Homo sapiens: one gene and its partners. The protein of the gene in region 2 purifies or fractionates together with the protein of the main gene of each other region. This does not show direct contact. Each region holds a gene or a part of one and is shown on either strand. Other genes may lie near its edges.

Evidence for each region. Proteins that work in one complex are often made in the same cells at the same time.
Region 1: the proteins of PHLDB1 (region 2) and PPP2R3A purify together in Homo sapiens (co-immunoprecipitation; one large-scale study listed by IntAct). This does not show direct contact.
Region 3: the proteins of PHLDB1 (region 2) and PHAF1 purify together in Homo sapiens (co-immunoprecipitation; one large-scale study listed by IntAct). This does not show direct contact.

What each region holds. Positions count from the first base shown.
Region 1 is NC_000003.12:135,971,809-135,975,727, forward strand, and holds part of PPP2R3A (serine/threonine-protein phosphatase 2A regulatory subunit B'' subunit alpha), read left to right. Parts: intron 1-3,919. UniProt on the Homo sapiens protein: The B regulatory subunit might modulate substrate selectivity and catalytic activity, and might also direct the localization of the catalytic enzyme to a particular subcellular compartment.
Region 2 is NC_000011.10:118,627,277-118,631,614, reverse strand, and holds part of PHLDB1 (pleckstrin homology-like domain family B member 1), read right to left. Parts: intron 4,311-4,338; coding exon 2,965-4,310; intron 1,568-2,964; exon of another isoform or gene 1,566-1,567; coding exon of another isoform or gene 1,533-1,565; intron 409-1,532; coding exon 136-408; intron 1-135.
Region 3 is NC_000016.10:67,144,022-67,147,940, reverse strand, and holds part of PHAF1 (phagosome assembly factor 1), read right to left. Parts: intron 3,648-3,919; coding exon 3,565-3,647; intron 3,108-3,564; coding exon 3,064-3,107; intron 2,566-3,063; coding exon 2,522-2,565; intron 2,372-2,521; coding exon 2,313-2,371; intron 1,664-2,312; coding exon 1,591-1,663; intron 897-1,590; coding exon 810-896; 3' UTR 1-809. UniProt on the Homo sapiens protein: Plays a regulatory role in autophagic activity. In complex with BCAS3, associates with the autophagosome formation site during both non-selective and selective autophagy.

The DNA of each region.
Region 1 (3,919 bases), on a different chromosome or scaffold from region 2:
TTAGGTACTATGCCTGGCTGGCAGTATATAGAGGCAAAAGTCCATTACCAAGGTGGTCCAGAGCTCCTTTGGTTTGTGGAGGAAACAGGATAGCTGAGTGGGGAGAGGACTTGGAGTCAGTTCCTGAGTATAGTTCCTGGATTTGTCAAGGGTGAACTGTGTGATTTTTTTTAATTGAGGTAAAATTAACCATTTTAAAGTGTACAAATCAGTTACTTCAGTATGTACATTCACAATGTTGTGCAGCCATCACCGCTAATTCTGGAACATTTTCATCACCCCAAAAGGAAACCCTGTACCCATTAAGCAGTCACTCGCCATTCCCCTTTACCCCTACCGTCTGGCACCCGCCAATTTGCTTTCTGTCTATATGGATTTGCCTGTTCTGAAGATTTCATATAAATGGAATCATACAATATGTAACCTTTTGTGCCTGGCTTCTTTCATTCAGCACAATGTATACGAGGTTCACTCAGGTTGTAGCATGTATCAGTACTTCATTCTTTCTTTGGCTGAATAATACTCCATTGTATGGATATACTACGTTTTGTTTATCAGTTGACATTTAGATTGTTTACACCTTTTGGCTCTTATAAATAGTATTGCTAAGAGCATTCTTCTACAAGTTTTTGTTTAAATACCTGTTTTCAATTCTTTTGTGCATGTATCTAGGAATAGAATTGCTGGATTATGAAATAATTCTATGTTTAAAAAGTTTTTGAGGAACTCCCAGACTGTTTTCCACAGATGCTGCACACTTTTACATTTTTTCCAGCAATTTTTGAGAATTCTAGTTTCTCCACCTCCTCGCCAGCACTTTTGTTTTCTGGTTATAGCCATCCTAGTGGGTGTGAAGTGGTGCCTCATTGTGATTTTTATTTGTATTTCCCTAATGACTACTGACGTTGAGCATCTTTTCATGTGTTGGCCATTTGTGTATCTTTGGAGAAATGTCTGTTCAAGTCTTTTATCAATTTTTTAATTGGATTGTCTTTTGGTTGTTGAGTTTAAGAGTTCTTTACATATGTAAATATGGATACAAATCAGGTTTATGATTTGCAAATATTTCCTGTCTTACTGTGTGCTGTTTTTTCACTTTCTTGTTAGTGTTCTTTGCACAGAAGTTTTTAATTCGTGTGAAGTTGAATTTGTTTTTTCTTTGATTGTGTATGCTTTTGGCATTATATCTGACAATCTATCACCAAATCCAAGGTCCTGCCAGTTTACTCCTGTGTTTTCTTCTGGCAATATATAGTTTTAGTTCTTAACATTTAGCTATTTGGTGGATTTTGAGTTAATTATTGTATGTGAGGTAAGGATTCAACTTCATTCTTTTGCATGTGAATATCCAGTTATCCCAGCATAATTTGTTGAAAGAGCTGTGTGATTTATGCAAGTCTGAGACTCTTATTTGTAAAATGAAAGTGATAAAAACACTTGCCTCACAAAGTTGTTGTAAGATTAAATAGGAGAGGATATATGTATTACCACTTTGAAAAGTATATATCATTAAACAAATACTCATGATTATTATTGGCATGCCACATAGAGCTTTCATTTGGTCAAGGCCGCATAGATTGATGTCCTTCAGGGACCACCACACATCTTCCCTCTTAGTGCATAGTGAATCACGACGTAACTAAAGGACTGTGATCCATGTTGTATCCCTAGGTCCAAAGTCACAGGGCCCCAGATGCAAGAGGTAGTTGGAGAGATTGCAGCTATCCAGAATTGAAAGTATATTTTCTTGTAGGGCATGTGTTTGTTGAATTCTGTTGCTATTCCTCATATTGAGGAATGTCTATTCTAGGTGTTTAAAGGCCCTAAAGAGTTTTCAGGCATAGTAGGAAATTAAAAGGCAGTTTCTTCTTATTGGACCAAGAATCCTCATGTTTCACTCTATCAGCTTTTAAACTTCCAGAACTAAGACTGTTTAAATGGCTAGTGATCTCACTTAGTTCAGTCAACAAATACTTACTAATTTATCACTATGTGCCAGGCACTGTTCTAGATACCGGAGATATAGTGCCTTTTAATATAAGACCAAACTCTCTTGACTTTGCATTCCCCTCTCAATTTGTTTTCTACAGTTATCTAACTCACTGACTCCAGTTCCTTTTCCACCAGTCTCTCTTGAGTCCACATTAATCAGGCCCCTTCCCCCACTGAAGCACTCTTGTCAAGCTCACCACTGACCTTCATGTTGCTAGCTCTAGTGAATCAGTTCTCAGTCTTCCTCTTACTTGACCTTTCAGCAGCATTTTACACAGTTGATTATTCCTCTTTCTTTGAAACGCGTCCTTCATTTAGCTTTGCTGCATTCTCTGCATTTCCCTCTCACCTTATTGGAGGTTTAGTCTTTTTGCTAGTTCCTCATGATCTTCCTGACGCCTAAAAGTTGGAGCATTACATGGCTCATTAATACTCCATTCTTCCTTATTGACTCTTATTTCCTTGGCATTTCAGTCAGTCTCATGACTTTAAATACCATCTATACACCAACAACTACATGCTGACTACCAAATGTATATCTCCAAGTTAGGAAGGAAATAACTGCAGTAACGTCTTTTCCTTGCTTATGTCCTTCTCTGACGGCCTATTCCCAACTCAGCAGCCGGAGGAATCTTGTTAAAAGTAAGTTATCCACTCAGAGGCTTTACACTTTCCTACAAGGCCCCTACATAATCTGAACTCCTCTTTGTCTTTCTGACCTCATCTGTTACTGCTCTTCCCTGTGCTTGCTTTGTCCCAGTCAAAAAGGGGACTTTTTTCTTCTTCCAACAAGCCAGGTATGTTCCTTCCACAGGACCTTTGTTTCTCCTAGTAAAGCTTCCTCCCTCGTTCTCTGTCTCCCTTCCCTTTCAAACTCTGCTTCTCAGCACTTTGGGGTAAAAGGGAGGGGTATCCTCCCACCCCAACCCCCTAGACTGAGCACTAAGGCTATCCCCTTCCTCTTGTTTGTTTATTCATCTTACACTTTCATTTGAACAGAGTTCCTCCAGTTGAAAAAGCAGCTTGAAAACTGCTTCTCTGTGAGATTAGAAATAAAAAGCAGAGATTAGTGGTTGTGAATGGAAATGTCATTAAGGGCTTAGGAATCCTAGCAAGGGCCACTTATCCCTTCCATTTTGTAGATCGTAGGCATATTTCCTATTTTACAGCCTTGGGGATTGGGCCCCAGAATACTGCTGTTGTGAGTACTGATGTGCTCCTACCAATGCCAAGTCTTCCATCAAGCACTGTGGCCCAGCTGTTAGCATTTTGTCTTCTCTCAACATGATACATCTTGGCAGTCTTGGTATTCTTCTAGTAGAAGGTTGAGACCCCTTTCCCATGGTGGGCCCTCAATGAGTGGAGGCTCACTGGGTGCTGGCAGCAGTATTGAGATCCAAGTATTAAAGGCAATTGAGGGTTCTGTGTAATGAAGAGTGTGTTGATTCTACTGAGAAATGCCCCAGGCCTTAAAAGGGCAAACAGGCCACATCTAGTGACAGTCTATCTAGATAGCAAGTTTAGACACTTCATCAGGGGCAGTGTTTCTCAGCCTTTGTCTGCAAACCTACAGGCCTTTATGTGGGCCCTCTGGTGGGTTCATGTTATTAAAATCTGGAATGGTGTCTGTTCTGATTTGTTGTTTTAGAAGAAAAGGTATTATTTCTAAGAATTTTAGCCAAACAAGTATTATATAAATACAGTCTCTTTGCTTTCCTTTTCCTAGATGAGCTGATTTCCTAGATAATAAACAAGTAGATAAATTAATATAATTTCAGATAGTAGTAATAGTGCTATGAAGAAAATAAAGTGGAGGGCTTTTCCCCTGATGCTGAACACTTGGGTTGTTTCCAATTTTTCCGTGTTTTAAACATTACTGCAATGAACATCCTGGTACTTGGGCAAATGTGTGAATGTTTATATTGCA
Region 2 (4,338 bases):
TGCACCTCTGCTCTCTAATCTCTTCCCAAACTTGATCCTTCCCCTCACTGGACCTTGGCATTGGATACACCAGCCTCCTCTGCCCCCAGCAGGTCCAACTTCAGCCTCTTTGTCTTGCCTACCCCTCCATCTCACCTCCTGCTGGGTGCTCTCAGTGCTGCTGCACTCCTCCTTGAGATTTTCCTCATCTGAGCGCTCCATACTCTCCCATAGGCGTTGGGTGGCAACGCCAGGCTCCTCGCTGCTCCGCCCAGAGGCCCCTGCAAGGCCTCGTGAGGGCCTCCGGCCTGCCAGTGCCAATGCTGCGGTGGCCTCCCCAATGCTGGGAAGCTCCCCAGCCTCAGGTCCCCCATCAGCCCGGCTGTATTCGGCACACAGGTTCAGGATGGTCTCCAGGCGCTGGCGTTCCTGGGGAGGATGGACAGAGCAGGACATGAAGGGGAGGAAGCTGAGCCCTGGTGGGGATAGAGCCAGGTTCAGTATCCTGTCAGGAGGGAGAGCAGGGTTACAGGGGGCTAGGACATCAGTGTCAAGTCAGGAGAGGCCTGACCCCAAGACCTAGGGGAGGCAGAGGGAAACAAGGTGCCCCAGAAGTGGGCAGGAAGAACGAGGCTGTTGTGCCACATGCCCACATGGCATAACAGCCTGGTTCTTCCTGCCCACTTCTGGGACAGCCCCTTCCATCTTCCTGTTCCTTTCTTTTTTCAGTCTACCCCAGGACACACAGGAACACACCAAATGGACCCACAGTAACACACTAAACACATACAGAAACACACTGTTAAGCAGACTACAGACCACAATGAGACACAGATAAACTCAGTTGCTCGTCCTGACGCAGGTACACACAGATCTACAGACACAAGGACACATACTGACACACCAGCACTGATGCACAGGCACACAAGGATACAACATGTGCCCTGGCCCTGCATTAATAGGCAAGTACAGAGACACCAGCCCTGACATGCACAAATGCACACTGATGCACACTCACAGATAAACACAGTCTAGCATACAGACAGGTGGGCATGTATGCAGACAGACAGTGCTGGAAAACAGACCCATGAGCCCACAGGGACCAGACACCCAACCACAGACATACATGGAGAAGAGGTAGACCAAGGACACGGCCCTCTTTGTCCCCACCTCAGCTCCAAGTTACCCTCAGGCAGCCCTTGGCTGTTTATCAGCAGGATGGGCTGCTGCCAGTCCTTGAATGCCCAGGCCCATGAGTGAGTACTCCCATGGCCCTACCACTTCATCCACCCCTCTCCACATACACACCCACCCAGATACAGTCACCTCTCAGGGGCCTAGGAGGTAAAGGAGGGATGACACAATCACATTCCTGGTCTTTGTTGCCTTTTCCCGCAGGCCTACCTATAGGCCTGAAGCCTGGTTTGTGAGGCTTCCATGGCTCTCTAGGGTCCCTAGACCTCCTCAAGTGTCTCTCATCACTTACAGTTTGGCCATGAACCCAAACCGCAGGAAGTGGAGAGAAGGCTGGAGAGGTGTTCTCATACACTTACCCAGCTTCCCTCCTGTTGCTTGCCCAGTTCCATGGCAAAAAAAAAAAAAAAAAACCGGAACAGAGCCTCGGCACCTGGGAGGCTGGGCCAGTGCCTCCACCCCTGCCCCAGGACCCAGATAAGCAGCCTGGTTGAGGTGGGAGGGGCAGGGCGGGCAGCCTCCAAGACTTAAAGTGGCAGGTGAGGCAGGTCAGGACTAGTGGTAAGATGTGTGCTTATGTGTGGGAATGGGGGTGGGAAAACTGATGGAGGAGTTGGGGGAGGCTGTGCCTGCCACTCTGCCTGTGCCAGGCTCACTGCCCCCTCTCCAGGATGAGACCCCAGCTTAGAATGGCCATGCATTCCCGTCTAGACCAATGCAAAAACAGTGAAGAGAAGATGCAGCAAAGGAAAAGATGGGATCCGCCTCATCTCACCCCCATCCAACACAAACACACAATCCTATACCCTCATCCAAAACTGTCCCAACCTCTTCCAAAAGCATCTCCAGATGCTTCAGTTCTGGTTCTCATCAGTTCTGGTTCTCTTCCTCAAACCAATCCCAGGGTTCCTGCCCACCTTCCAAAGAACCCTGTTCTGCTCGTAAGGGACAGAGGGCAGAATCCATTCTTCTGTACATGGGCTCGACTGTGTACACACCAGCCAGAGCCCCTTAAGCTCCCTGAGCTATCTGGGGAATCCTGGCCCCCACCCAGCTCAGATGCCATCTCCAGGACAGCTGCCTAGAGCCACACCCAGCCCCTGCATGCACCCACGTGCATGCACATGGACACACACAGTCACAATTACACAGGCTGGCTAACGGTCAGGCCAGGGTTGCCTATCCTGCTCTGTCCCTCTACCCTGCCACCTGCACTCCTAGATGATACTGCCTGGGCCAGGATGAGCAGCTCCCACCCACTTGTAGAGGCCAAAGACAAGCAAAAAAGAAGGACAAGGTACTTTTCTAAAGAACAAGTCTCAGAAAGAGTCAGACAGGGGACCTGGGTTCCAATTCTAGCTCTGCCAGAACTTGCTGTGTGACCTTGGACAAAGCCATTCCCCTCTCTGAGCTTCAGCCTACTCATGATCACCAACTGCTTCTCAAACTGGGAGGTTCGAGGTCTTACCATACCTGTGGTATGTTTTCCTAGAGCTTCACTGTGCTCAGGTAAACAATGTGAAATTTAATTTAACATTAAAACAAATGCTATGTTGAATAAATGCAAAATTAGCAAGAATTTAAAATAAAGTCTTAGAGATTTCAAAGGAATTTCTTCTTCACGGCACCAGAACCATAAGATATTGATCACTAAAGTGTATCCTGGAGGTGGGGAACCTTGAGAAGCCGAAGCCCTGTTTGAGGGCCTCTCCTGCTCTGCCAGCTGGCCTGCTCGAGCCCTGGCAGAGACTCTGCCATGGACAGTGGCAAGCCTCCCTGGCACCCGCTCACCAGCCTCTCCATCTCCTGCTCCCGGAGCCGCTCTTGGCGCTGTCGCCGGTGGTACTCCAGGAGGTCGTCCTCATTGTCACTGATCTCTGTGATGCTATTTTTCCGCTCCCTTGTGACAGGCACCCGCAAGTCCCCGCTGGAGAGCTTCCTCTGGACACAGGGACTCTGGCAGGGTGAAGCCCCAGTAAGAGAGCCCAGACTGTAGGCTGGGCTCAGCCTGCCACTGAAGCTGCCCTTGTGGGGTGCCAGAGACTCACCCAGTGTGGGTGAGGGGCTCCGTGTCCTACGGCCCCGTGCCCCCAGCGTCAGGGAGAAGTCCTCTGGTGAAGCCCCATGGGCTGCCCAGCGCCGGGGCCGAGGACTCTCTGCCACTTCCCTGTTTAGCTTGGGATCTGGGGTGGTCCGGGTGGGCAGCGGGGAGAGAGCTCGCCGGGACAGAGATGGACTTAAGGGGGGTAGTTCTCGCATACTGTCCAGGCCCCGCCGGCCCAGGCGGGGACTCTCAGGAGGCTGCAGGGTACGGGTGGCTAACCCATCTGAAAATGTTCGGCCCACCAGTTGGCGTGAGGGGCTGGTTGTTAGCACCCGCTCACTGCCTGGAGGCTCACGGAAAGGGCTGGGAGGGCGGTCCTGGAGTGTGCCAATCTTGTTTCGGGGAGCAGGGACTGGAGGCTGAAACTTGGGGCTGCCAGGAATGCTGGTGGGTTGACTGAGAGCACCAGAAGCTGGGTATTCACTCAGGCTGATGGCCACCACAGGCAGCTGCCCACCCAGCCGGGGGCTCTCAGTGGCTCTCCGGGCCTCCGCCAAGACAGTAGCTGCAGGGCTGTCTGTCAGCAGACCCCGGAGGCCAGGGCTGGGAGGCCTCTCATGGCCCCCTTTCCTGCTCAGCCGAGGACTCTCGGAGCGAGCACCACTTGGGCGGGACTGTGGGGGCTGTAGGGCCAGATGGTAGCTGGAGGAACGGGCAGGTACCAGCGGGGGCACAGAAGGTCCTGGCTCTTGCCCACTGGGTGAGTGACTGGCACAGCTTCCACTGCTGGCTGGTGAAGAGAGTGGAGAGAAGGCTGGAGAGGTGTTCTCATAGCTGGAGCCCACAGACATGGCGCCGGGGCTGGTTGGGGGAGACAGCAGGTAGCGCCCACCATTAGCCATCGGTGACAGTGGAGAGGTTGCGGCAGGCTTCTTGCCAGCAGCTCCAGGCTCCTCTAGCACCAGTGAGTCCATGATCTCTTGCAGGTCCTTCTCAATAGAGCTCACCAGGGAACTGTGGCTGGCACAGGCAGAGGGTCCCCGTGTTGCAGTCTGTGGGGTGTGGTTCCCATTTACCAGACTTTCTGATTCTGCTGGAGGGAAATGCAAAGGTCTTTGACT
Region 3 (3,919 bases), on a different chromosome or scaffold from region 2:
GGTTGGGGCAGAGAGCCAGCCCACAGTGCAGAACAGAATGCTGAAACACAACAAAAGTAGGAAGATGTCTTTGGCTAAAACTTTGGCATTAAATAAAAGAGGCAAACAGGATGGAAACATGCAGCCCTGCCAGCCAGGATGGGGCAGAGCAGGGGCACAGGCAATCTTGAAAGCTGACTCCAACAGGGGTGAGAACCAGGCCTGGGCATGTACCTGGATGGTAGAAAGCTGTGTTTCAACCAGTTTGGTGTGCCCAGGCAGGGAGCGCGTGCAAGAAAGGAACAGGGAAGGGCAGGTGGGCCACCCTGGCCACAGCCAGCTCATCAAGTAACTAAAGTGGATGTAGTGCAAATGTCGCAACCAAGTACTATGGACACGCTACCTGCTTGCCTTAAGGGTCATGTGGCAATGTGGAGCCAAAGGCAGGACCTTGTCCTTATCCTGGGTGCCTGTGTCCTCAGTCACAGAAAGAGCCCCAAGTCTTCCCAATGTGCATGGGACAAGGGTTGACCTCTCCTGCCTCCTTGTTAGTTGAGAGCTCCTGGGTCCAGGAATCAAGGCTCAAACTTTGTGCTTCTCTTTGCAGTCTGTGTCCCCTGCTGGCACCAGCAGGCCAAAGATGGACAGAAGAATATCTGGGCCACTCAGCCCATGGCAGAGCACCCAGCCTGAGCCCAACCTCAGAACATCACAACAGCCCTTCAGCACTGGCCAGGTGTCCAAGAAAACCCACAGGGTGGTACAGAGGCCCACTGAGCAGGATGTGATGCACAGTTCCACGGGACAGAGGGGCATGGGTGGTGGTGTCCCTAGGGGAGTTCCGCTGTTCTCAGGTGGCTACCAGGCCTGGGGGGGCCATACAGGGTCACCGAGGCAATGTGGTTGTTCTGCATGACCTGGTGTGAGAAGAGGACAGTGGGTCAAGGGGGAGAGGTAAAGGGATGTAGGCAGATCCTGTGCATGAGGGCTGGAGGTTGTGTGACATACCTGCACCTAATGGCTGGGTTTCCCGACTCCTCAACCTCCCCTGGTTCATGCTAAAGGCCCCCCTCTGCCTGAGATCTGCCTGTTTCTCAATGGTTACACACAGCCTTTACCATGGCCACGTGTCCAGTCCTTCTGGAACTGTTAAGTGTCTGCTGGAGATACTGCATCCACAGGGAAAACAAGGGCAGCTTGCTGTTCTCCCAAGTCAGCAGGGCCTCCAGAGCCACTCACTCCCCTACAATGCATTTGTTCACATGCCACTGGAGGGCCCCCAACACCCTCTGCTGGGCCCCACTTGCCCTGTGGTTCCCTTCCCTGCTATAATCATGTTGTCAGATAGAAACTTGGGATCCGTTACCTCCCATCTTGTTGGACACAGACCACTGCTTCGGCCTCTGTGACCCCAGATTTCTCAACATCATTTCTGAACCTTCATTGTTAAGTGTGGGGAGGCCAGGTATGCAGCAGACACGGTTGCTGAAGAAGGATGAATCTGCCCACTATGGCAGTGATGCCCTCCCCAATTTCCCTCCATCATTCACCTGGCCCTGCCATGACCAGCAACCCCCCAGGCAGTTTATTTCTAGGGCTTCCACAGCTTACCTCAAAGATCATTCGCTGAAGACCAAAGCAGAATGTGGAACCAAATGGGTTGGTGTTGTTTGGGGAGGAAGACCTGAGGCCAAAGAATTCAGAATTAGAGAGGCAGACAGAGGCCACGGCCTTAAAGCAAGGGATCCAGTCTTTTCTGGGGTATGGGATACTGGCCAGTAGTCTCTCATGGCTGTGAGTGTCTGTCTGTTTCCCACACAGGCCTGCAAGATCCTAGGGGTAGGGATGGTCTCACTCAACTCAGAATTATACATACAGAGCCCAACAGGACAAAAAAGTTACTGTGGAACTGGACTAGGGTGGCGAGGAGTCAAGAGGGCCCTCTTGAGTGAGAGAATCTCAGGCAGCATGGCAACCAGGAACGGGGCTGTGGACTTCAGCAGGCAGCAGCTCAAAGCTCAAAGGGAAAAAGAGCCCAGGCCAGCCAGCCAAGCCCTCCTTCCTTATTGAATAACTGAGGGTGAGAAGGCCCCCATACCTAGAGGTAGGCTTGGGAGAGGGGAGCTACCCCTGGGGACATTCTCTCTATCAAAGATGAACACACAGAACAGTTGACTCAGTCCTAATGTGCAGAGTGGGGCAGGAAGTATGCTTGTGGCAATATCAGAAACTTCTGTAATTTTTAAGCAACATCCACTGTGCCAGGCTTCCCTGGGCTTTCTGGGCTCTGAGGAGTCAGGTGGGGTGGCCGGGGACATCAAACTCCCACTCACCTGTGCAGGACAACAGGCTTCTCCACAGGGTGGCCCAGGAGCTCCTGGATGTTGTCCCACTGCAAGAGGGATAGAGGGGAGCAGGGGTTAGTAGGGACATGAACATGTCTGTGACCAATGGCTGGCCTAGAGGACACAGCCCCATACTGCCTGCAGGCTCATGTCCACCTCATTCTCAGGCTATGCCAGGTAGGAAGATAGGTGCTCACCTTGCTGTAGGTCGTGCATGTTTCTGTCTGACCATCTGCGTTTTCTGAAAAGAGAAGACAGTGGGGCAGATTTGTAGCTGGCCCAGCCTACCTGTGGCCCCAGCCCTAGGTAGGAACCAGACCTGGTGTCCCTTTGCACTGGGGTTGGAGTACATGGGGAGGATTAACAGGCTGTTTTGGAGTTCCAGGGTGGAAGAGGATGGAGGGGTGAAGGGAGGTCAGTCAGGTGTGAGCAACAACAATTGGCAGTGGGTGGCAGGCAACAAGGATGGGCTGGGGCCCCCTGGATGATCATCTGTAGATAAGAAACTCTCCCCTCCAGAGGCCGGCAATCCCACAGTCATAGGAAGAGGCCTCAAGGGCCTCTAGGAGACTCAGACCAAGAACACTGCAGCCCCCAGAACAATGAGCCCACCCCAGAGGAACTGAGGCCATGGGCAGAAGCTCCACACATCCAACCACTGCTTCGATCTTTCTCCCTTTTCATAGTGGAAAACAGACTCTAAAACCCCTCCCTTACCCTGAGAGCTTTCACTACTCACCTTTCTTTATGGCTAGTGGGATCTTGAACTCACAGCGATGATAACTAGAGAGAAGGCAAATGGGTAAAGGCTGGGCCTCCTAGAAGGCCTGGCCACTCCCATATTCCAACCCCACACCCCAGGAGAAACAGAACCAAACACACCTGCCCAAAGCCCTGGCTCTGAGTGCCTGACAGTGTTCACTGGGGGAGGCCAGATTTAGGCACGGAAGTCGAACAGAAAAGATCTTGGCCCTGGGTTCTGGAGAGCCTATTACCTTGGATAAGACATCAAGCTTTCTGAACTTATTTCCCTATTTGTAAAATGGGTTCAAACAGAGAGATGTAAGGCATTGGACCCTGTGCCAGGAACACAGCAAGCACTCAGGAAATTCACTTCCCATGAAACAGCAAGAATTCAGGTGTAGATAAATTAGTGAACACCCAAAGCCAAAAGCTCTTTCCTGGGGTTTTCAGCCCAAAACTCACTTCACAGAGGGGAGGTACAGACAGGTGTACTCACATGTTGAAATTATAATGCCCAGGGTAATTGGTGTGTAGAACAAACTTCTTCACTTTGTGTGTATTCGCATCAAAGAGGATGTCCTGGGATAGAAAACAAGGGTACTCAAGGAGGGAATGTTACTGAGGCAGGGCAGAGGCCTTTCCAAAGGCATGTCCAACTTGGGACATCCAGTGCACTCCACAGCAAGAATGCCTGCAGGCATCACCTTTCTTCCAGACAACAGTCCAGGGGACAGGCCAAGCAGCTTTTAGACATTTTCTTTCTTCTTTTTTGAGATGGAGTCTCACTCTGTCATGGAGGCTGGAGTGCAGTGGCACTGTGTCAGCTCACTGTAACCTCTGTCTCCTGGGTT